Regions from separate parts of the Homo sapiens genome. Here region 1 is linked to region 2. The links come from fine-mapping of genetic effects on gene expression. A gene starts in region 2. The other region holds a variant in brackets. All regions are shown on one strand. Distances are from middle to middle.

Evidence for each region.
Region 1: its variant is fine-mapped to the expression of INTU in iPS cells (iPSCORE, PIP 0.95).

The regions. Positions count from the first base shown.
Region 1 is chr4:127,650,618-127,663,471 of GRCh38, reverse strand. INTU (inturned planar cell polarity protein) reads right to left here. Exons shown (of 16, transcript NM_015693.4): 3 at 6,751-6,836; 4 at 1-91. Among named protein-coding and RNA genes, the nearest start is that of INTU, 24 kb to the right of the region's middle. RefSeq lists enhancers at 6,926-7,524, 7,525-8,125. The variant T/C (reference allele first, on the strand shown) is at 7,555.
Region 2 is chr4:127,623,655-127,636,215 of GRCh38, reverse strand. INTU (inturned planar cell polarity protein) reads right to left here and starts at 3,259. Exons shown (of 16, transcript NM_015693.4): 1 at 3,036-3,259. The coding sequence starts at 3,181. RefSeq lists enhancers at 3,230-3,409, 3,072-3,611.

The sequences.
Region 1 (12,854 bases), 27 kb before region 2:
CTAAATCACTTGTGTTGGACTGTGTCTTTTTCTGTCTTGGATGGGACGTCTCCCTTTTCACATCATATGCATTTTCAAATGTCAGTTTCACCTTTAAAAATTAAAACAATGTGTTGACTTTTCGACAAGGGAAAATCAGCTGCAGTTTTCACAATGAAGGATCTGTGCATGTACATACACCCAGGTATGTACAGTATATATAAATCATCCTAGAGTGAGTGCTCCTGATGGCTGGGACTACGTATTCTATTTATATTTGTATCTTCGGCTCCTAGGAGAGTGTCTGATACATATTACCACAAATATTTATTGAATAAGAATTATAATGTTCTGTATAAAATTCATTTAATTAAACATAATCATTGCAGTCTAAATTGTTGACTATAAAAATAAGAAAGGCCATCAAAAACCAGAAATTAGTATGATCTGATAGTGCAAAAAGAATAACACCACAATATCAATGCCGATAGCACTGGCTTATCTGGGAAGATAGAAGGAAGACATTCAGCATTAAGAGTGACTTCACACAACCAAAGTTAACTCTCCTTTCAAATAAGGTGGTATTTCAAATATTCTTCTCTCAGACATTCTTTCTGGTTCTTTAAAACAAAGGCCAAGGAAAGTAAACGCTATCAGCATGCTGGATCTTAGACCAACATGGCTCTAAGAAGATTATCAATTTTATCAAGAGAGTTTTAATTTCATGGCCTGATGTCAAGATTGGTAAGAGTCCAGAATGTGGCCATTTTCCACAGGTATGGAAAGGTAGCCTCCATTTCTCAATTACCTAATGGTTCTGGTACTGGTCTGTGGCCTGGGGGTTGGGGACCCCTGGTGTAAGAGGATGCCCTTATTCTTAGGAGATACATTTCAAAGTACTTAGGGATGAAGTATTAAAATTACCTATCCTTGGAAAAGGAAATATTTGTCTAGATACCAATTGGTCAAAGATAACTCGTTCATTTCAAAGAAGTACCAAAATTGGATAGCCACACATAGAAGAATGAAACTCTGTCTCTCACCGTACACAAAAATTAACTTAAGATGGATTAAAGACTTAAATCTAAGACCTGAAACCATAACAATTCCAGAAGAAAATGTACTCTTTGGATACTGGCATAGGCAAAGAATTTATGACTAAGACTCCAAAAGCAAATGCAACAAAAACGAAAATAAATAAATGGGACCCAATTAAACTAAAAAGCTTTTGCACAGCAAAATAAATAATCAACAGAGTAAACAACCTACAGGATGGGAGAAAATAGTTGCAAACTACGCATCTGACAAAAAAACTAATATTCAGAATCTCTAAAGAACTCAAATCAGCAAGAAAAAAGTAATCCCATTAAAAAGTGGGCAAATGACTTGAACAGACATTTGTCAAAAGAAGATATACAAATGGTCAACAAACATGAAAAAATGCTCAACATGACTAATCATCAGGGAAATGCAAGTTAAAATAAAATGAGGTACCTACCACCTTACTCCAACCAGAATGGACATTATTAAAAAGTCAAAAAACAATAGATGGAGCAGACGTGGTGAAAAGGGAACGCTTATGCCCTGCTGGTGGAAATGTAAATTAGTACAACCTCTATGGAAAACAGTATGAAGACTTCTAAAAGAACTAAAAGCAGATCTATTATTAGATCCAGCAACCCCTCTACTGGGTATCTACCCCAAATTCCTTTATCTGAGAATGAGGATTTAGGAGTACCCAAAAGAAAGTATATGGAAGACTTTGGTGGTGTTCCCTGGAAATTTGAGAACTCTTTGGGGAATTCCTGAGTATAGACTTTGTGACAGATAGATGGGAGCTCTGAAGATTGTCCCCTGGCATTGGGCTTTAGGAAGGAGCTCTGAGTGGAGATGTGTGAGCGGTACAGAAGGGGAGAAATCAAATCAGAGGGAGCATGAGATGAGTCACATCCTAGGGAAGCAGGTGTCACAGAGATGAAGCTGGAGTGTCTATGAGAGTTGTGCATAAGAAGTGGTGACAAGAAAGCGGGTCCTCAGAGAAAGAAACGCATCTCAGAACAAGGAAGGCATCTTTCCCAGCTGAGATTCTTATGGGTGGAGAGGTAGGGTGCAACCTACCAAAAATAAAAAAAGGGAAATTTTTAAGTCTACCAAAAATAGACTCAAAAATTCACCAATTTTCTTCAGGCAGCAGCAACAACCTCAAATTTAAGATTGGTTTGCTATGCTTGGTGAAAAACAACATACTTGAAAACTAGTGTTATACTTGGCAAACAACATCATTTATTTTCTGTGGTGCAAGGACCTTTTTGTCTCACCACAACAAAAACTCAAACAAAAACACACACCACCGAACCATCCATTAAAATTCCTTAGGGAACTATTTCAGCCACTATTCTTCTGATTTAAGTAAAGTTGGCTCCATAATACAAATAAAATTATACTTTAAAAAGACATTTTTAAAAGCTTACATGTTAAGTAGCTACAAATGTCAGGAAATCTGGTTGCCTTGATAAAATGGTAAAGGGTGAGACAGATAACCAAATTAAGAGTTAAGTGCTATTTTAAAAAATAGGTTGATATACATAAATATTAGGGATATTATATGTTTTATAGGGAAAAACTTTTATTAAATGATACTTAACATAAGTTAGTTTACATGAAGCTTCTTATAAAGGGTTTTCTCTTATTACTCGGTGAGACTTTAACCTGGTACAAGGTTCAGGATCCTTCGTGTCCTATGTCCCTCTTCTTTGTGCGGTTTGCCCAGCCTTTCCTCAGACCCAAGGACGCACTCTCTATGACTCATCACTTCCAAAGTCTTGTTGCTTTGTCTTTTCTTTCTACTTCAGTCTTTAGCCCATCCTATTTAAAAAGCAATGTCTCTTCCAAACAAAGAAATCATCTACCAAACAAAGAAATCCTCTGATTCCCCTTTAGCTACCATCCTCTTCACAGATGGGACCTGGGGAGGCTGTCAGAATCTGCAGCAGCTGTGGAAGCTGACCAGTCTGTCACCTCTGCTTCAGTCTGCACCGTCTCTCCCATCATCTACACTGCTCTCTGCATGTGTTGTCCTTTCCCTGTTGGCTAACAGCTGGCAGATGATTTCAATACTCCTTAGTCAAAATTCTGAGGGAATCGAGTCTGACTGGCTCAGCAGATTATCTCTCCTCCATCCTCTTCTCTTCTTGGGCCACCTCACTGAGTGACTCAAGACAAAACTTGGAAGGCTTCTTGGACTTCTCTCTCTCCTGTAGAAAATATTGTCCTCTTTCCTTCCTCTCTATCTTAAATCTAATCTCCTCCTCCATCCCCGGTCAATAAAGGCTCAGGCCTTTATCATCTCTCTTCTGGACTACTGCAAACCCAACCACCTGGTTTCCTGACCTCCTGTCTTGCATATGCCTCCCCCATCCAGAGTGATATATTCCTAAAATGCAAATTTGATTTGCATGTAAGTCCTGCACTTTAAAATGTTGATATAAATGGTTACTTCTGGGTTCTGAGAATAGATTTACAAATATTTAAAAAATTTTACTAGTTTGTTTTCTAATTTTTCCACAGTATATGTATCATTTCTGTGTAACAAGGAAATAATAAAAGTTAAAACACTCCACTCAAGAATCATTTCCTTTAAGAAGCCTTTGCCCCCTCCTTTAGGCCTAAGAACTACCTGAGAAAGAAGAGTCCAAGACTAATAATCTTCAGGCTGTTCTCCTAGAAAAGGAGTTAGGTTCCTCCAAAGCTCTAAAAAAGCCAGCTATGGCCCAGTACTAAATGAAATCAGTCTTCGTCATCTGCAAAATTTGGACCCAAGCTCCCGGATAAAGACGGGAAGAGACGATGTACTACAAGCATGATTATGTACCTGTTAAATGAATGAGAGCACAGAGCTGCAGAAACGGATCAGGGTCACAAAAGTCAACAATTAGATGGGTATTTGCACCTTTGTTCTTGTTATTTAAAATTTCGAAAACCTCTTCTTTAAATCAACATTTTATTTTAGAAATTTTAAAACTACAGAAAAGTTGTAAGAAGAGAACAATGATTGCCCATAATCCCACACCTAATGGCACTATTGCTCACATTTTGTCACATTTGCTTCATTTTGTCTCTTCTCTCTGGTCTTCCTTTCCTTTCCTTCCATACTCCTCTCTTCTCTATATGTATTTTTTAAGTTTCTTGGCTGAACCTGCAAATTATTTGCAGGTATTTTAACACATTGTCCCTAAGTACTTCAGCAGGTATCTCCTAAGGATAAGGGCATCTTCTTACAGGCCATGGACAGGTACCAGAACCATTAGGAACCAGGTGGCATAGCAGGAGGTGAGTGGCCAGTGAGCGAAGCTTCATTCATATTTATAGCCACTCCCCATCACTCACATTATTGCCTGAGCTCTACCTCCTGTCAGATCAGTGGTGACATTAGATTCTCCCAGGAACACAAAACCTGTTGTGAACTGTGCATGTGGGGGATCTAGGTTGTGCACTCCTTATGATAATCTAATGCATGATAATCTGTCACTGTCTCCTGTCACCCCCAGATGGGACCATCTAGTTGCAGGAATACAAGCTCAGGGCTCCCACTGATTCTACATTATGGTGAGTTGTATAATTATTTCATACTAATAGAAATCGTGCATACAATAAATGTATACTTGACTCCTCTTGCATGTTTAACAAGGATGGATTAATTGTGGATGGAACTGGTCCAAAATATTAAATCCTAATTTCTTTCTCTCCCTTTTTCTTCTGCTAAGTGTGCACAGTTGAATTTGCAAAGGTTAATTAAATATAAGTATAATGTGATTCTGCTGTAAACATAACTTTTCATATTTTTGAAGAAAGAATAGACATGATTGAACTCTGGCAATACTGGAAGCACACCTGCAACCAACATAGGCAAGAAAAGGGGATCCCTCACTCAGGATAATACATAGCTACTCCACTTGGGGGAAGCTGACTCACTTGTCAAAATACTGCAATTCTTCACTATTAATCAATAAGTAGCTGCTGTCTGAGCACCCTGAAGTACCCTAGTACCCTCTGTTGGACCTCCCCACATCTAGTGACTAAAGTGGGTAACAGTACAACCTACTCTAGCACCATGGCTGGCTGATGTCCCCCTGATTGTTACTATTTCAAACACCACCCCATCTCCATCTCCATCTCGCTATCCATTCCTAGGCATTGCTGGTCTCAGCTACCATAGTTATTCCAGCACTTTCATTTTACATTTCCAAAGATAGCTAAATTTACAGAGCATCTGTGTGTGTGTGTGCATGCGCACACATACATGTGCATACAAAGTATGTTTAAAACAAATAAATGGGCATTAGGGAAACCTTGTTTCCCAGAAAATAAGGAATTTCATCATGTGCCTTATTATTTCAGAATCTCAAATCAGATGCAGCTGAGATTCTGATTTATCAGGGATTCTATTCTTCAACCTGACCAATCCAAAAACGACTTCATCCTCTCACTGCCTGATGGGTCCTCTGTCCCACCAGTCTCCAGACTTTTTGGCACCAGGGCCTGGTTTCATGCAAGACGATTTTTCCACAGACCAGGGTTGGGGGACGGTTTCAGGATGATTCAAGCACATTACATTTATTGTGCACTTTATTTCTATTATTATTATAATACATTGTAATATATAATGAAATAATTATACAACTCACCATAATGTAGAATCAGTGGGAACCCTGAATCTGTTTTCCTGCAACTAGATGGTCCCATCTGGGGGTGATGGGAGACAGTGACAAATCATCAGGCATTAGATTCTCATAAGGAGCATACAACCTAGATCCCTTCCTTTCATGCACAGATCACAATAGGGTTCGTGCTCCTAGGAGAATCTAATGCCACCCCTGATCTAACAGGAGGTGGAGCTCAGACACTAATGTGAGCGATGGGGAGCAGCTGTAAATACAGATGAAGCTTTGCTCGCTTGCCCACTGCTCACTTCCTGCTGTGGAGTCCAGTTCCTAACAGGCCACGAACCACTACCAGTCCGTGGCCCAGGGTTTGGGGACCCCTGCTCTAACCCACATAAAGCATATAATCTTCCCTATCCCCCCAAAAAGAGAATGCTAATTCCTGATGCTATCTAGAACAGAGTATTCATGGTATACTCTGTTACCAAAAGGTATAGCACTTGCAAAATACCCCTAATAACTGAAAAACATCATCTACGATACACAATGTCAATGTTTAGGGTATCAAAATTACTTTTTATAAAATAAATTTATTTCTATCTACAAGGATTGAAAAATAATTCCTTAAGTAGCCAAACAAAAGTCCAGGAGAAAAGCTTAATTAAATAACAAAAAAAATCAAGAAACTTGTATGATTTGTTTTTAAAATAAAATCACATTGGAAAAAAAAACATTATAGCAACAGTGATCTTAGTAAGTCAGAGAACAGAAAACTCCCTGACTATTTAAAATGACTCTTCTAGGAACCAGATTGTCACAAGCATATATGGTAGTTATAATGGCAAGTTTGCAATTATGTATGTTTTCATTACTGTTGCTGTTACTGCTTTATGTAGAATTTTACTTGTAGATATTTTTCTCTCTTTTTAGAATAATCTCCAGAAGCTAATAATATTAGCAAGAGCTAAATTTTCTTAAATAGGCAAGTATCAGTGTAACTCATCCATTATACATGATACTTTTCAGACGCTTAAAAAGGAAAATAGTGCACGATATATTTATATATTTATTTTATGTAACATCATAAAATATAGAAAAAGAATGTCCATACCTGCATAGGTCCAGGAATGCAAGACAGAACTCTCTCGATGTTTTCAGTAGTAACATCGACATCATTCACAGCAACAAGGACATCACCTGAAACCAGAATAACAATAAAAGATAGTTTTATGAATATCTAAAAACCATAGAGGTCTAGAATTGGAACATTAAACAGCTACTCTGACATCCTCAAAGTACAGTGAGAAATCTGGTGCAGACAAGCAGGAACTTGTCCAGGTTTATACAGCTCATTGGTGGCAGGGCTACTCTCCTAACTTTACTCTTCTTAATCTATAATACTGCCCATTATTGCACCATAAATAATACAACCTATGAATATTTTAAAAAATAACTATTTTTATTCTTGATACAATTGGGAGAATTATGTAAACCCAAAGAACAAATGGAAAATTTGTTAGCATGAACCAAATACTGTACTTGACAAAACTGAATCTAACCACTTAGACCCACAGTAAAAACAAAACAGAGGAGCCAAGATGGCCAAATAGGAACAGCTCCCGTCTACAGCTCCCAGTGTGAGCGACGCAGAAGACAGGTGATTTCTGCATTTCCATCTGAGGTACCGGGTTCATCTCACTAGGGAGTACCAGACAGTGGGCGTAGGTCAGTGGGTGCGCACACCGTGTGCAAGCCAAAGCAGGGCGAGGCATTGCCTCACTTGGGAAGCGCAAGGGGTCAGGGAGTTCCCTTTCCGAGTCAAAGAAAGGGGTGACGGACGCACCTGGAAAATCGGGTCACTCCCACCCGAATATTGCGCTTTTCGGACCGGTTTAAAAAACGGCGCACCACGAGA[T/C]TATATCCCGCACCTGGCTCGGAGGGTCCTACGCCCACGGAGTCTCGCTGATTGCTAGCACAGCAGTCTGAGATCAAACTGCAAGGCGGCAGCGAGGCTGGGGGAGGGGCGCCCCCCATTGCCCAGGCTTGCTTAGGTAAACATAGCAGCCAGGAAGCTCCAACTGGGTGGAGCCCACCACAGCTCAAGGAGGCCTGCCTGCCTCTGTAGGCTCCACCTCTGGGGGCAGGGCACAGACAAACAAAAAGACAGCAGTAACCTCTGCAGACTTAAATGTCCCTGTCTGACAGCTTTGAAGAGAGCAGTGGTTCTCCCAGCACGCAGCTGGAGATCTGAGAATGGGCAGACTGCCTCCTCAAGTGGGTCCCTGACCCCTGACCCCCGAGCAGCCTAACTGGGAGGCACCCCCCAGCAGGGGAACACTGACACCTCACACGGCAGGGTATTCCAACAGACCTGCAGCTGAGGGTACAGTCTGTTAGAAGGAAAACTAACAAACAGAAAGGACATCCACACCAAAAACCCATCTGTACATCACCATCATCAAAGACCAAAAGTAGATAAAACCACAAAGATGGGGAAAAAACAGAACAGAAAAACTAGAAACTCTAAAACGCAGAGCACCTCTCCTCCTCCAACGGAACGCAGTTCCTCACCAGCAACGGAACAAAGCTGGATGGAGAATGACTTTGACGAGCTGAGAGAAGAAGGCTTCAGACGATGAAATTACTCTGAGCTACGAGAGGACATTCAAACCAAAGGCAAAGAAGTTGAAAACTTTGAAAAAAATTTAGATGAATGTATAACTAGAATAACCAGTATAGAGAAGTGCTTAAAGGAGTTGATGGAGCTAAAAACCAAGGCTCGAGAACTACGTGAAGAATGCAGAAGCCTCAGGAGCCGATGCAATCAACTGGAAGAAAGGGTATCAGCAATGGAAGATGAAATGAATGAAATGAAGCGAGAAGGGAAGTTTAGAGAAAAAAGAATAAAAAGAAATGAGCAAAGCCTCCAAGAAATATGGGACTATGTGAAAAGACCAAATCTACGTCTGATTGGTGTACCTGAAAGTGATGGGGAGAATGGAACCAAGTTGGAAAACACTCTGCAGGATATTATCCAGGAGAACTTCCCCAATCTAGCAAGGCAGGCCAACGTTCAGATTCAGGAAATACAGAGAAGGCCACAAAGATACTCCTCGAGAAGAGCAACTCCAAGACACATAATTGTCAGATTCACCAAAGTTGAAATGAAGGAAAAAATGTTAAGGGCAGCCAGAGAGAAAGGTCGGGTTACCCTCAAAGGGAAGCCCATCAGACTAACAGCGGGTCTCTCGGCAGAAACCCTACGAGCCAGAAGAGAGTGGGGGCCAATATTCAACATTCTTAAAGAAAAGAATTTTCAACCCAGAATTTCATATCCAGCCAAACTAAGCTTCATAAGCAAAGGAGAAATAAAATACTTTACAGATAAGCAAATGCTGAGAGATTTTGTCACCACCAGGCCTGCCCTAAAAGAGCTCCTGAAGGAAGCACTAAACATGGAAAGGAACAACCGGTACCGGCCGCTGCAAAATCATGCCAAAATGTAAAGACCATTGAGACTACGAAGAAACTGCATCAACTAACGAGCAAAATCACCAGCTAACATCATAATGACAGGATCAAATTCACACATAACAATATTAACTTTAAATGTAAATGGACTAAATGCTCCAGTTAAAAGACACAGACTGGCAAATTGGATAAAGAGTCAAGACCCATCAGTGTGCTGTATTCAGGAAACCCATCTCACGTGCAGAGACACACATAGGCTCAAAATAAAAGGATGGAGGAAGATCTACCAAGCAAATGGAAAACAAAAAAAGGCAGGGGTTTCAATCCTAGTCTCTGATAAAACAGACTTTAAACCAACAAAGATCAAAAGAGACAAAGAAGGCCATTACATAATGGTAAAGGGATCAATTCAACAAGAAGAGCTAACTATCCTAAATATATATGCACCCAACACGGGAGCACCCAGATTCATAAAGCAAGTCCTGAGTGACCTACAAAGAGACTTAGACTCCCACACATTAATAATGGGAGACTTTAACACCCCACTGTCAACATTAGACAGATCAACGAGACAGAACGTCAACAAGGATACCCAGGAATTGAACTCAGCTCTGCACCAAGTGGACCTAATAGACATCTACAGAACTCTCCACCCCAAATCAACAGAATATACATTTTTTTCAGCACCACACCACACCTATTCCAAAATTGACCACATAGTTGGAAGTAAAGCTCTCCTCAGCAAATGTAAAAGGACAGAAATTATAACAAACTATCTCTCAGACCACAGTGCAATCAAACTACAACTCAGGATTAAGAATCTCACTCAAAACTGCTCAACTACATGGAAACTGAACAACCTGCTCCTGAATGACTACTGGATACATAACGAAATGAAGGCAGAAATAAAGATGTTCTTTGAAACCAACGAGAACAAAGACACAACATACCAGAATCTCTGGGACGCATTCAAAGCAGTGTGTAGAGGGAAATTTATAGCACTAAATGCCCACAAGAGAAAGCAGGAAAGATCCAAAATTGACACCCTAACATCACAATTAAAAGAACTAGAAAAGCAAGAGCAAACACATTCAAAAGCTAGCAGAAGTCAAGAAATAACTAAAATCAGAGCAGAACTGAAGGAAATAGAGACACAAAAAACCCTTCAAAAAATTAATGAATCCAGGAGCTGGTTTTTTGAAAGGATCAACAAAATTGATAGACCACTAGCAAGACTAATAAAGAAAAAAAGAGAGAAGAATCAAATAGACACAATAAAAAATGATAAAGGAGATATCACCACCGATTCCACAGAAATACAAACTACCATCAGAGAATACTACAAACACCTCTACGCAAATAAACTAGAAAATCTAGAAGAAATGGATAAATTCCTCGACATATACACTCTCCCAAGACTAAACCAGGAAGAAGTTGAATCTCTGAATAGACCAATAACAGGAGCTGAAATTGTGGCAATAATCAATAGTTTACCAACCAAAAAGAGTCCAGGACCAGATGGATTCACAGCCGAATTCTACCAGAGGTACAAGGAGGAACTGGTACCATTCCTTCTGAAACTATTCCAATCAATAGAAAAAGAGGGAATCCTTCCTAACTCATTTTATGAGGCCAGCATCATTCTGATACCAAAGCCGGGCAGAGACACAACCAAAAAAGAGAATTTTAGACCAATATCCTTGATGAACATTGATGCAAAAATCCTCAATAAAATACTGGCAAAACGAATCCAGCAGCACATCAAAAAGCTTATCCACCATGATCAAGTGGGCTTCATCCCTGGGATGCAAGGCTGGTTCAATATATGCAAATCAATAAATGTAATCCAGCATATAAACAGAGCCAAAGACAAAAACCACATGATTATCTCAATAGATGCAGAAAAAGCCTTTGACAAAATTCAACAACCCTTCATGCTAAAAACTCTCAATAAATTAGGTATTGATGGGACGTATTTCAAAATAATAAGAGCTATCTATGACAAAACCCACAGCCAATATCATACTGAATGGGCAAAAACTGGAAGCATTCCCTTTGAAAACTGGCACAAGACAGGGATGCCGTCTCTCACCACTCCTATTCAACATAGTGTTGGAAGTTCTGGCCAGGGCAATTAGGCAGGAGAAGGAAATAAAGGGTATTCAATTAGGAAAAGAGGAAGTCAAATTGTCCCTGTTTGCAGACGACATGATTGTATATCTAGAAAACCCCATTGTCTCAGCCCAAAATCTCCTTAAGCTGATAAGCAACTTCAGCAAAGTCTCAGGATACAAAATCAATGTACAAAAATCACAAGCATTCTTATACACCAATAACAGACAAACAGAGAGCCAAATCATGAGTGAACTCCCATTCACAATTGCTTCAAAGAGAATAAAATACCTAGGGATCCAACTTACAAGGGATGTGAAGGACCTCTTCAAGGAGAACTACAAACCACTGCTCAAGGAAATAAAAGAGGATACAAACAAATGGAAGAACATTCCATGCTCATGTGTAGGAAGAATCAATATCGTGAAAATGGCCATACTGCCCAAGGTAATTTACAGATTCAATGCCATCCCCATAAAGCTACCAATGACTTTCTTCACAGAATTGGAAAAAACTACTTTAAGGTTCATATGGAACCAAAAAAGAGCCCGCATCGCCAAGGCAATCCTAAGCCAAAAGAACAAAGCTGTAGGCATCACCCTACCTGACTTCAAACTATACTACAAGGCTACAGTAACCAAAACAGCATGGTACTGGTACCAAAACAGAGATATAGATCAATGGAACAGAACAGAGCCCTCAGAAATAACGCCGCTTATCTACAACTATCAGATCTTTGACAAACCTGAGAAAAACAAGCAATGGGGAAAGGATTCCCTATTTAATAAATGGTGCTGGGATAACTGGCTAGCCATATGTAGAAAGCTGAAACTGGATCCCTTCCTTACACCTTATACAAAAATCAATTCAAGATGGATTAAAGCCTTAAACCTTAGACCTAAAACCATAAAAACCCTAGAAGAAAACCTAGGCATTACCATTCAAGACATAGGCACGGGTAAGGACTTCATGACTAAAACACCAAAAGCAATGGCAACAAAAGACAAAATTGACAAATGGGATCTAATTAAACTAAAGAGCTTCTGCACAGCAAAAGAAACTACCATCAGAGTGAACAGGCAACCTACAAAATGGGAGAAAATTTTTGCAACCTACTCATCTGACAAAGGGCTAATATCCAGAATCTACAATGAACTCAAACAAATTTACAAGAAAAAAACAAACAACCCCATCAAAAAGTGGGAGAAGGACATGAACAGACACTTCTCAAAAGATGACATTTATGCAGCCAAAAAACACATGAAAAAATGCTCATCACTGGCCATCAGAGAAATGCAAATCAAAACCACAATGAGATACCATCTCACACCAGTTAGAATGGCAATCATTAAAAAGCCGGGAAACAACAGGTGCTGGACAGGATGTGGAGAAATAGGAACACTTTTACACTGTTGGTGGGACTGTAAACTAGTTCAACCATTGTGGAAGTCAGTGTGGCGATTCCTCAGGGATCTAGAACTAGAAATACCATTTGACCCAGCCATCCCATTACTGGGTATATACCCAAAGGACTATAAATCATGCTGCTATAAAGACACATGCACACGTATGTTTATTGCGGCATTATTCACAATGGCAAAGACTTGGAACCAACCCAAATGTCCAACAATG
Region 2 (12,561 bases):
CTCACTGCAACCTTGAAACCCTGAGCTTAAGTGATCCTCCCGCCTCAGCCTCCCAAGTTGCAGGACTATAGGCACATACCATCATGCCTGGCTAATTTTTTTATTTTTTATTTTAGAGATGGGGGTCTCACTATGTTTCCGAGGCTGGTTTCTGACTCCTGGTGTCAAGCAATGCTCCTGCGTTGGCTCCCAAAAGCAGGATTACAGGTATGAGCCACCATACCTAGCCGAGAGATGAACTATTAATGGGGGCAACAACATGGATGAATCTCAAAGTAATTATGCTGAATAAAAGAAGGCAGACAAAAAAGAACATTCATACTGCACAATTCCATCTTTATGAAACTTTAGAAACTACAAACTCCTATAGAGTGACAAAAAGCAGATAAATGGTTATCAGGAGAGGCATAAATGGACTTAAGTAGGTACATGGGGAGACTCTTAGGCGAGATGGATATGTTCATTTTCTTGACAGACGTATACATGTTAAAACATCAAATTGTACATTAAAAATATGTGCAGTTTTTTGTATATAAATTATCCTTCAATGAAGCTATTTTTAAAGTCCCAGAAAAAAATTTAAAGGACATACCTCCCTTCTCCAGCCAATCCTTGTGTTTTAGGTGGAAGTTCCTTAGCTTTAACAGCTAATATCTCATTTAAAATGATTCCTGTTTCTCTCCATCAGCCAGTTTTAAAACTGATGTAACAACAACAAAAAATTCACTTTGAAAAATTAAAAATCCAAGTCACAACATTGACAAACTCTCTGTAACATGAACTAGGCATATTAGCTGGTAACTTGGCATTGTTGCAGGTGAATGTGTGATTTCTGTTATCTTAATGCTAAAACTAGCTAATGGCTCCCTCAACCCAACCAACCCACCAGTATTATCTCGGAAGCCTCCCAGGGTATGTGCCCATGTGTCAACTTAAGACATACTGCAGCAATATAAACTCTTATTCTCTAACAAACCTAAAACAAACCTATTAAAAGAACTCTACCAGAATTTACCATAATGTAATTTTATCTCCAAGATGATAAACTTTTAAATTCTATATTGACAATCACATACAGCTCAGGTACAAAGCATGTATGAAACAGTAACTTCTAAAAAGAACACGCAGTTAACTAAAACCTTGAAAATTCAGGATACTTTATGTGAGTCAATATGCAGTACAACTTCCTTAGTAAGCTTCACGTAGTCCATGAAATACAATAGGAAATTCATGTCTTTGCTTTAATGAGAAAGACTAAGGTTGGCATTCCTGTGCCTTTGATTAAAGAGTGGTTCTGTACAAGTTGGGAAGGCCACTGTTTGTAATGATGACTGCAGCTTAGGGAAGTAAACATCTACCATAAGGGAAGAACCGAACATAAGCCTTCCTGGTAAGTTCAGCAAATTAACCCTCATGTCCTACAAATCAAGAAGGGACAGACTTAAAATTTGAAACTTGGTAGGACTTGAAATACAGACCAGCAAAACATCTTATGATAGGGATTTTCTATACTTTTATTATTAGGAGGATAAAGACACTAGAACATGTGGCGTGATTAGTGACATGTGAAAAGCTTAATGATCATTTTTTAAAAGCTAAAATATAACATACATACATGTATTTTGAATCATGAAATACTTTTATTCTTTTAAGTGACAAGTTCTCCTATCACAAGGTCCTCAGATTGGTCATTTCCTAGGAAACAAAGTTCACTATTTTAATCCCATCAAAGTCATGGTGGCCCATTAGGTATCAGGCGTCTTGAATTCTCACACTGACAACACTCAGCTGTGCAACTATACATGAATCATAGATTCTTTCTGGGCTAAAAGTATGCGACTCTAAAATGTGGAGAAGCCAAGAGTTTGAGTCTTACACTGTCTATGGCTTCACATACCAAGACCAAATAAGGTTCTATGTAATTCATATTTCCTTCCAGCAGCCTTGTGTAATAATCATGAATTTTAAAATTATTTTTTTAATGCCTACAGCAGATTACAAAAAAATACGATATTTTAAAATTTGTTTAAGTCTTCAAGAATGTATTAAACAGGTTTCCCCACCATACTTTTAAAGGCAATGATAAAAATCTTTTACATACTGATAGGTAAAAACAATTGCCAAATAACAGTTGCTCCTACATACATATAAATGATTTGTAACTGTTGTTCCTAAATACACATAAAATGTCATCCTAAAACTGACCAGGTATGGTTGTCCATTACTGGGTTAGTTGACATTTTGGCACCAAAACTTTTTCACGATTAGTCATTCTCTTCAAGCTACTGCTAGTTGACTTTTCTAAAGTTCTTAATCCATAGCAGTAAGGGGTAGATTTTTCTTAAAAATGAAGTAGCACTGAATACTGTGAATCAAAATAACCTTTTCATGGCATTATTAAGAAAGTGAAACCTTTAGGTATCTGTATTTTTAAAAATTAAATTATGACGTAAAATGGAAAACAAGAAAATCATGGAGATGCATAGGAAAATACAGCAGAAATATCCAGAAGTGCTGAGAGGTTGTCCTTGATGGTGAGACTATGGGTGGGCGTTCCTTCTGTTATATAGCTATTCATTTCCATAACAGAAAAAATCTACATAAATTTAACAACTGCCTTATAAAACGCGTAGGGTGTCTCTCCACTCCAAATACTAAAGAGATTAAGCCACAAAGGTCACACCAAAGAATCAAGACACTGCGATCGAAACAGAGTTTTTTGAACGCTGTTACAGATATATCCTCCTATGGCCTAGACAGAGCCCATGACCAAAAAGAGGAGATTCTCCTCATCTAAGAATCATTGAAAAAACAAAACAAAACAAACAAAAAACAACCTACAGTAGCAAAGAATGGCATCGTCATTTCTGCTCACACCACCATACAATGGAACGTGGTGCAATTAAATCCCACTTATTATAGAACCCCAAATACTCGATTCCAACCACGCCAACACCCTTGCAGTTCCCCCAGCCCACGTGTATATTCTCTGGATTGATGGGATGGGATTAATTGTCCCTCTTTGAAAACCTTACTCATAATCGCTACTCGCTGAGGAATATGAACCCGAGTCGCTGACCCGATCTTCAAAATCATAGTCCTCATCTTCTTCTTGTGAAGAGGGGTCTCCAGGGAGCTCGTCTGAGCTCGGACGCGAATCGCACGAAGCCACAGAGGCCATCGTCAGGAATGCAATAGCTACGAGTGGAGTAATTCAAATCTCGCAGCTATAGCTTGCTAAGGCCGCCATGTTGCCTCTGCTTGGGAAGGGGCAGAGGCCATGTGACCACCAATCCTTAGCTGCAATTGGTGGCAGGTCGCGTTGCCAGGGAGACGGAGAAGCTTCCCAGAAGAAACAGGGAGAACAGAAAGCAGCCAATGGGCTGAAACTTCCAGGAGGGCTTCTCAGTTGGAAGGATAGAAATAGCTAAAACTTCACCGCTTACGCTCTCCGGAACGCAATTCCTTAGAGCAGCATAACCTGTTAAAACAGGCGGAGATGCACTGGGCTTCTCACCTTTTTCTTCCAGTGCTGGATATCCAGTTTGCTCTTTGTCCTGTGTTTCTAATGCCTAACAGCTGTCGGTCAGCCTGGATTTCCTTCGAGGTGAAGGAAACCGCACTTTACCTTTCCTTAGGACCTCATCCGTGCAAGTAATGGACGCTTTTAAGCAACGCGATCTAGGTGTTAATGTAAATACGCTCCATTGTTTTATGGGTTTCATATTGTTTCGCAATTGCAAACATTTTCACGGTTATCCCAAGTGGGTATTGTAGAGTGCCACAAATGAGTGGCAATCCTGTGGAATCAACTTCATGTTCATTTTCTAACTCAAAATTTTATAATCTAATTAAGTGTTCTCATTATTAAAGTTGGAAGTGTAAACAGGTAAAATCTACCTGTTATTTATGAATACCTATATCAAGTATTTTTTAAGTACAAAAATAACAGCTAGCATTGATTGAGAGTCAGCCTTGGCTCTGCTCACTTTATTCATATACAATGCTGAGCATTCACATACTATGAAGTAAATATTTTCTCTATATTAAATAAGGAAACTAAGCTTTAGAGAAGTTATGCATCTTACTAATGGTTACATGGCTAGCAGTCAACAAAGTCAACCAAGAAATGAACCTAAGTCAATAACCATTACATGAAATTTCCTCCCTCAGAACCCAGTAATTCAACTATTAGATATCTACTCTGAGAAAGGATGCAAATTTATAAAATTTGTAAAAGTGAAAAGCTGAAAGCAATCTTAAAATGTCAAATAATGGGGGAAAAGTTAAATATATATAAAATATGATGATTATGATTTTAACTAGAATGTGTTCAAAGAGTAAAGCATGGGGGAAATGTTCATGTTGCAGCGTGTAAAAAAAGGATATAATGTTATTTTATGATCTAAAAGGCTGGGTGCTGGGGATTCTCTAATGGGCAATTATAACATAGTGATAAGTATTACAATAAATACAAGGTTCTAATGGAATATCCAGAAAAAACCAAAGTAGTATACGTGGGGCCATGACAAATTTCTTAGAGGAAGTATTAATTTATATTGTTATTATGGCATGGTTCCAACAGAGAAAGAGTAATGGGAGATGAGTCATCACATGGCCGGTATGGGTATATGCATGGAGAACTCAAAGGAACCTGAATTGTAGCTGTTGCAGGGGCAGAAAAACTCTACCTCCATCTTCTTAGGGTCCCAGCTGGGCCTGAGAATTAAACTTACCTAAAATAGATTAACAAAAGAAAAGCAACTGGAACTTGTTATACAGATGTTGAGGCCCTGCTCCACATCAACAGGATCAGAATCTCCAGTGGAGGGGCCTGGAAATCTCTATTTCAAACAAGTGCCCCCTGTGATTCAGCAAACTTGGGGAACTGCCCTAAATTTTCTCTCAGTTCTGTGCTTCATCTATACAGGCCAACTGGCCATTCCCTGAATAGGCTGGAACCCACTCCCACCTCGCAAATTTGAGCCTGGCAGACAGACCTCTCTCCTTGCTCTAGAATCCAAGTTTTACATGGCAGGGGAGCCCTCATAAAGAAATGAAGACCCAAAGAAGCAGTTAGAGTCAGTTAACTTATATACTGGATTGGACAAAGAATAGTTAGTTGTGAAGAAGCAACTAAACTAAATTGGGAAGCTTAAAAGATAAGTTATTTTAACAAGGTCTGTACAGAATTCTCTTGGTTTCACTTCTATGCCCTTGAGAATAAGAATGTTACATTTTTCTAGTATAGGGAGGGTGTCTTTCACATGGGAGCTTCATCTGTTGCTTTTAAGAAGCAGCACAAAGGCACTTGCTGTTTTTCAAGTGTATTAAACTTAAATGGCCAGGATAGTATATTTTACCTTCCTCACAGCCAAACAAGCTGCAGTATGCAGCTTATACTTTTAAGCTGAAGTTTAGTTGTATTTACATTAACTGTACATTACATGTACAAATATACATTAAACTATGTACATTTGAATTTGTATATTACATGTACAAATGTACATTAAACTATATACATTTGAATTTCCTAGGTTTTATGGTTTTGTTTTAATTTCTAAATGTGTTTTTATAGTGTTATAACAGCGATTACATTTTGTAATTTATTTGTATTAATTCATAAAATTGTTTTCATCTTATATAGGAGCTATAAAGCACAGATTATACCTCATTTATTTAAAATTATAATTAAAAAACTTAAGTCATCCATGGAAATCCACAATAGTTTTTCCTTAAAAGAGGTCTATATGTTACTAAAGTTGAAGAACAGGAGGAGGAGTTTGTAAAGGGGTAATGGGCAAAAGGAGTGTCAGAGGCATTTGAACCAGAGCGACTCCATCTTGAATAGGGGCTGGGTAAAATAAGGCTGAGACCTACTGGGCTGCTACTCAGGAGGTTAGGCATTCTTAGTCACAGGACAAGATAGGAGGTCGGCACAAGATACAGGTCACAAAGACCTTGCTGATAAAACAGGCTGCGGTAAAGAAGCCAGCCAAAACTTACCAAAACCAAGATGGCTACAAAAGTGACCTCTGGTCATCCTCACTGCTCACTATACGCGAATCATAATTAGAGTACAGTGAGCAGTGAGGATAATGAGCATTAGTTGCTAAAAGACACTCCCATCAGCATCATGACAGTTTACAAACGCCATGGCAATGTCAGGAAGTTATCTAATATATTCTAAAAAAGGGAAGACCCCTCAGTTCTGGGTACTACTCCCCCTTTCCCAGAAAACTCATGAATAATCCACCCCTTGTTTAGCATATAATCAAGAAATAACTATAAGTATACTCAGTCAAGCAGCCCATGCCGCTGCTTTGCCTATGGAGTAGCCCTTCTTTTTTCCTTTACTTTCTTAATAAACTTGCGTTCAATTTACTCTATGAACTTGCCCCGAATTCTTTCTTGGGTAAGGTCCAAGAACTCTCTTGGGGTCTGGATTGGGACCCCTTTCTGGTAACAGGAGGTCCTTGAGGTGGTAGGAGGGGATAGCATCCAAGGCACAGAAGGAGGGATATGACCTCCCTGGACACCTCTTCCCTAAAACTAGAAGAAAGAGCCAAAGAAGGGTGCTGGTGTGGATGGTGACTTGCCAGTTTCAGGCAGGAAGCTGAGGCAGTCTCCATGTGACAGTGTTTATCGTCTGGTAAGTAGGCTGCAACCTTGCCAGCTGAACGTGATGGAGGAAGTAATGGGGTCGGAAGTTTGAAGAAAGTGGAGACAGGAAGGAAGGGAAACAAATATTTCCATTAGCATTGAGATCCAACAAAAAATGTATTACTTTTAAAATCAGAGAAACAATATTATTTTAAAAAGCTGGAGTCCCTATACTCATTATTTTGAGTTTCATGGTAAAATATATATGCTTACTTTCACCACAATCTTAAACATTAGAAATGATTTAAGATTCCATTTCAAAATAAAAAGTGCTTTAGTTACCTCTTTAATAAGTTAACCTTTCCTTGTTTTAAAAGCAACTTATTGGAAGTAAAAAATAAAATAAGAAATTAAAAAAGGACATTTACAAATTTTAGGAAAATATCACATTTTCTTCCTACAAATTTTTCATCAATTTTTTTTTGTAAGCATCTAGTAGTTTCATACCCTGCCTCATAAACCTTGCATGGCACCTCCTTAAATAGAGAACAAAGTCCAAACTGTGTAGCTTCTTTTAAATTTTTTTCTCCAATTCTACAAACAATTGAACACCAATTCAGAATTAAATGGTTTATTCCATGTTACATCGTAAGTTAATCAAGCTGATCAACTTGTCTATTCAAAAGAATCAACTGGAGCTTGTTATACAGATTTTGAGGCCCTGCTCCACATCAACAGGATCAGAATCTCCAGGAGAGGGGCCTGGAAATCTCTATTTTAAACAAGTGCCCCCAGTGATTCAGCAAACTTGAGAAACTGCCCTAAACTTTCCCTCAGTTCTGTGCTTCATGCATACGGGCCCACTAGTCATTCCCTGAATAGGCCGGAACCCACTTCCACCTCCTGAATTTAAGCCTGGCAGACAGACCTCTCTCCCTGTTCTAGAATCCATCATCCACGTAACCTTGAGCAAATGACCTCCACAAGCTTCACTTTCCTTATCTGTAAATTCAGAAAATGGTACTTACTTCACAGGACTGTTTGGAATCTAATGAGTTAATGCATGTAAAGTACCTAGCACATAAAGCATCAATAAAACAGCTATTTTATCTCATTTACTCACACAGTTCTCTTACTGTGGAATGATACTTACCCAAAATTCATTTGTTGAAATACTACACCTTTCTTCAAGATCCAATTCAAACAGCACCTTTTCCCAAAAGCCCTCCTAGACACATCTCCTACCTCAGTAAGAATTCCTTTTTCTACTCTTTCCTCATAATCTATCCCATAAAATTAGGTTATAACTAATATCAGTCTGTCTTATATCTAAATTAAATAGGAATACATCTATCATTGCCACCAAATGACAATCTCCTGGAGAACCTGACTGGGTCTTTTTTTTTTTTTTCTCTTCAGTCTTTCACTTGTCACAAGGTTGAACTGGAGCAAAAAATGCCACATGAAAGTATACCTGCTAGGACGTTAGCTATATTCCTGAGTTACGTTAACTCCCTTGGCTAATTTACTTCCATGTGTTAGTTAAATGGATAAAAGTGAGCAACAACAAAATTTACCACCTCGCTTTATCTTTCATCAAAGAAGAAATAATAGCAATCATTTTTATCCTTATTTTAATTTTCAGGTTGTAGTATCAATTAGTCATATTTCTAAATTTACATATCATATTTCTACTAACCTTGCTAATATTTAATAAGCTTAGATATTTTTGAAAGGATGAAGAAAGGAAAGGAATAGGATGCCATTTTCAGGGCCTTTATAAGAATATTCTGTGTGTTTCATAATTAGCAATTGCAAGAAGATTTAAGAGATTTAGACTGGGGTATATTTTCATTTTCTCTTTTCCACTACAAAATGACCAGCCATCTTCTGAAGCCCAAATATGTTTAATTTAATGCATATGAGACTTGACATCCTTATTTCCATAGATTACCATCTTGATTAGGCGAACTACAATTCTGACATAAAATACACCAGAAAAGGACATAATTAAATATTTAGTATCGTTAGCAGGTTCAGGAGCTCTTTCTCTAGTAGTAATAGAAGCTGGCAATGAGAAGTAAATGAAAATAGGGCCACATGAGGTCATATTCATTAAAAATTTAAACTACAAGGTAAAAATTATGTAAGAGTTTTGTTAGAAACTAATATTGCCTTAATTGTGAACACAGAAATAATAATACTTTATGAACTATGTGGTAATAATGACAGCCATAATTATTTTTAAAATATGAATAAATAACTTGGTAGACCAACAAAATAGCATTTTAGAAAGTGAGACTTTATTATGTAGAAGATTTCAGATTTCAGAGTTTATATATCAAAATAACATTTCAGCAATCCTAAAGGTACAGAATTGCATTATGGTCTAAAATTCTCATTTCCCTCTATAAAAGTTGAATTACTTGTTAAAATGCATACAACTTACCTGCAATAAGACCATATATTCCACATTTGAATAGTAATGGAATACAGATGAGAATCCAGAAGCACAAGTGAGACTAAAATAGATGGCACAAAGCTCAAGCCCAAAACCCAATTCATTTACTCCTATTTCTTTTCATTTTAGATCTTCATTTACAAATTATAACAAGTTTGGCAAGCTGTTCTACCACTATAGATCAATAGCTGCCAATCAGAAGGAAAGAAGGCTCCCTTAAAACAGGAATACAACAACCCTGGAAATTGTTGATGGCTGACAATCTGCTGATGAAGAGGAAAGTAGAAAACAAAAGGCAGACATGAGAATTAACAAAAAACCATAGTTTATAAATAACTGCCAAATGACCTAAGTAGCACCTAAAACAAAAAAATTCACAGCATTGTTGAATCCTACAATAATTTGACATCGACTGTAAAAAACACTTGATAATCTGTAAGTGCCATGCATTCTCCAGTCAGGGGATCCAAGTTCTCATCCTGATTTTGGCACCAATAACCAAGTGGAAGTGGACAAAGTCAGTTTCCTCATCTGAAGGCAGCAATAATAATCTCTGCCTACTCTATAGGGTTGCTGAAAATCAAATGAGATAACCCTTGAAATCTAATGCCTTATACCTTAAGAAACAGAGCAGTGTGTACTTTATATTATATTTTCAAAAGCTGTTTTTTTTAATTATTCATTTTAGTTTTTATTTTTAGATCTTAAAAAGATATTACATACTCTTTTACTAACAGGAATATTACTTAATTGGGCATACCCCCTGAGAATTCTGGATAGTTGCGGTATTTTGAATTTGCATATTTTCACCTTTGGTAAGAGTATGAAATTTGGGTCGTCAAAAATTTTGAGAATCACCTCTAGTTCACTCTCTCCATTGGCTTAGGGGTCAAAAAACCAGCACTCCAGCCTGGACCAGCACCATTCATTAGCTATTAGGCCTTGGGCAAAGTCACCAGGCTGAATCTTCTCAGAATCTTTAGGAACTATCATTTTGTGTTTTGTTTTAGTTTTTTACTATAGAACAGTTGTTACCATAATCCCTTATATTTGACAGAACTTTAGTTTTATAAAGCACTTCCATATCATCAGAAATTCACACCAACACCTTGTGAGGTGGGTATTATCCCTTTATATTACAGAAAGAACAGGGGAAAATATAAATAAGTTAAAAGTCTTGCCAAGTCACACAACTACTGTGCAACAGAGGAATTAGGACTCCAAGGAAATGATTAATTTGCAATAGTATTGTGCATATGTTTTTTTAAAAAAATTTGCAAAATACTGAGTATTAATAGTATTGTTTGGTTATTTCTTATAATCAAGATGACAGAAAAATAACTTAAGTAACTGAGAAATACAATACTGATGCTTTTCCTTGACTCAGACAACTTATGTGTAACTTTTTTCAAAAAGCAGAATAGTTAAATTTATTTTGCTGAGCTATTGTTATTTTACAATTGACATTTTGAAGTTAGCACCTCATGCAGAGAAAAGTTTGCAGCTTTGCTTTAATTTTGGTTTGGCTGAAGTATCTTTTTCAAAAGCACAGCAATTTAATGCTTTACATTTTAAAAACCATATTTGCAATGGAAAATATACAAGTAATTTAAAAAAGGACACACTCACAAGACTTACCCTTTAAAGTAACACGTTAAAATAAAACAGTCTGTTATTTTCTCTTAATAACATGGCTACTAGTCTCTTTAATGCAATTGCCAAAATTTTGTATATAATTTACGATGGATGTTTTAAAGGAAAAACATAAAAGTTTTGTAACAGTAATACTTTTAAAATAGGCCATGCATTGATATACTTCATGAGAACTATGATAAGTACAAGTATGATTTAAGGGTTATCAAATCTCCCTAATTTCTATAATATTATGCCTAAACAAATCTGTATATATACAAGCAAAAGACATTTGATTAGATGTGAACTTGTGTGAAACACAGATGCATTAAATGAAAGAGAAACCTCTACAGATGTCTAAGTTTTTTAAGTGCGTGTTTGAAAACATTAAATAATAAATAACCACTAATAAGAGTAATGCATTGCAGTAGCAAAAAGATTTTCGTATAATGTTAAAAAGAAAGCACTGTTAGCCATGATACTGACAAACATATTTATAGTTCCAGATTCCATTGGTTCCTCCAGCATATGGGAGCAGTTATTTGTAATTCAGATAAAGTAGTTTTTCATTGTAATACTGAGCAGGTTATTCTAAAAATATTCCACTACTTCCGAAATAATCATCTCAGTCTTGATGACTATAGCTTAAACATATTCTTTTGCCTGGTTTATTCGGACAGGTTTGTGCCTTGGATCTGAAACCCTAAAGTGTTCATCAGTTTGAAATTTTTTGGCACTTGACATTTAAAACATGAGAAATATAAAGAAATTCTGTTGCAGCAAGGTCTTAAGCTTTTAAAATTAGCACCCCTCCCGGCTTTACAACAAAGTCATGCTGTGAATGAGTTTTTAGTTAATGCTTCTTGGGATTTATTCCTGGACTATAATTTTATCAAATGCAGGGGGAATTTTCTTTGGGAATTTAGCAGAATATCCTTTTCACAGCTCGTTTAATAATATTTTCTTTTATATGGCAGGGGCTCTTTGGGGGTTGGGGGAAACCAACTGCAGAAAATTGCAGGTTTCAGAAGACAGCTCTGAAATCGCAGACACCCAATTTCTCCCTTGCACACTTTCTTTTTTACTCACACTTCCAATAGAACAGGATTTCTACAGCTCATATGGTTTTGTACAAAGACTTAAAAGGGCCACTTGAAACGTTTACAGATGAGAGGGCTCACATAAACCTCCCCCTGACAGATATTTACGAAGCGCCACTTACTCTTTCTCGCCACAAACGTATTCAAGAGACACTTTAGATATATTTCTAAGAGTTCTTTTTCCCTACAACGTCTTATGAAGGCCAGGCCTTCCTAGAACTAAAGCAGCATTAACTGCTTGGTATTTCATCCATCCTCTCTTAAAATTGAAAGACAATTTGCTCTTCATGTGGACTATTTCTTTCTCTTCTATAAACCCATCACTGTAACCACAGGATTTAATATTTGTTAGTCTATTTTGCATAAAGGATAAGGTTGGACGAAAGTACCAGCAGTGAAAATTAATGCACTAGCAGCTTACAGAAAGTTAGGGTTCTCATTCTTCCTAGAGAAACTCTTAAATTTCTTTTGTGCAGTTTTTGGTGTGTGGGCGCAAGCGCATGCGCGCGCGTGTTGGGGGGGTGGGGTAGAATTAGATTTGTTAGAAAAGAAGCTCTTTTCCATTCCAGTCACAACTAAAGTTCAAACAAAACTCTTAGCTTGCTGGAAGAAGCCTGGAGGTGTTAAGGGACAGCTTCGCTTAATCTTTCTTTCTCTTCTTCCTAAGGTAGCGTTTTCCGGAGGAGATGGGTGACCGGGACCCGCGCGGGGCCAGTCTCGGCAGCGGGACAGGGTGGATCGCTGGCACCCGATTCTGGAAAGGGT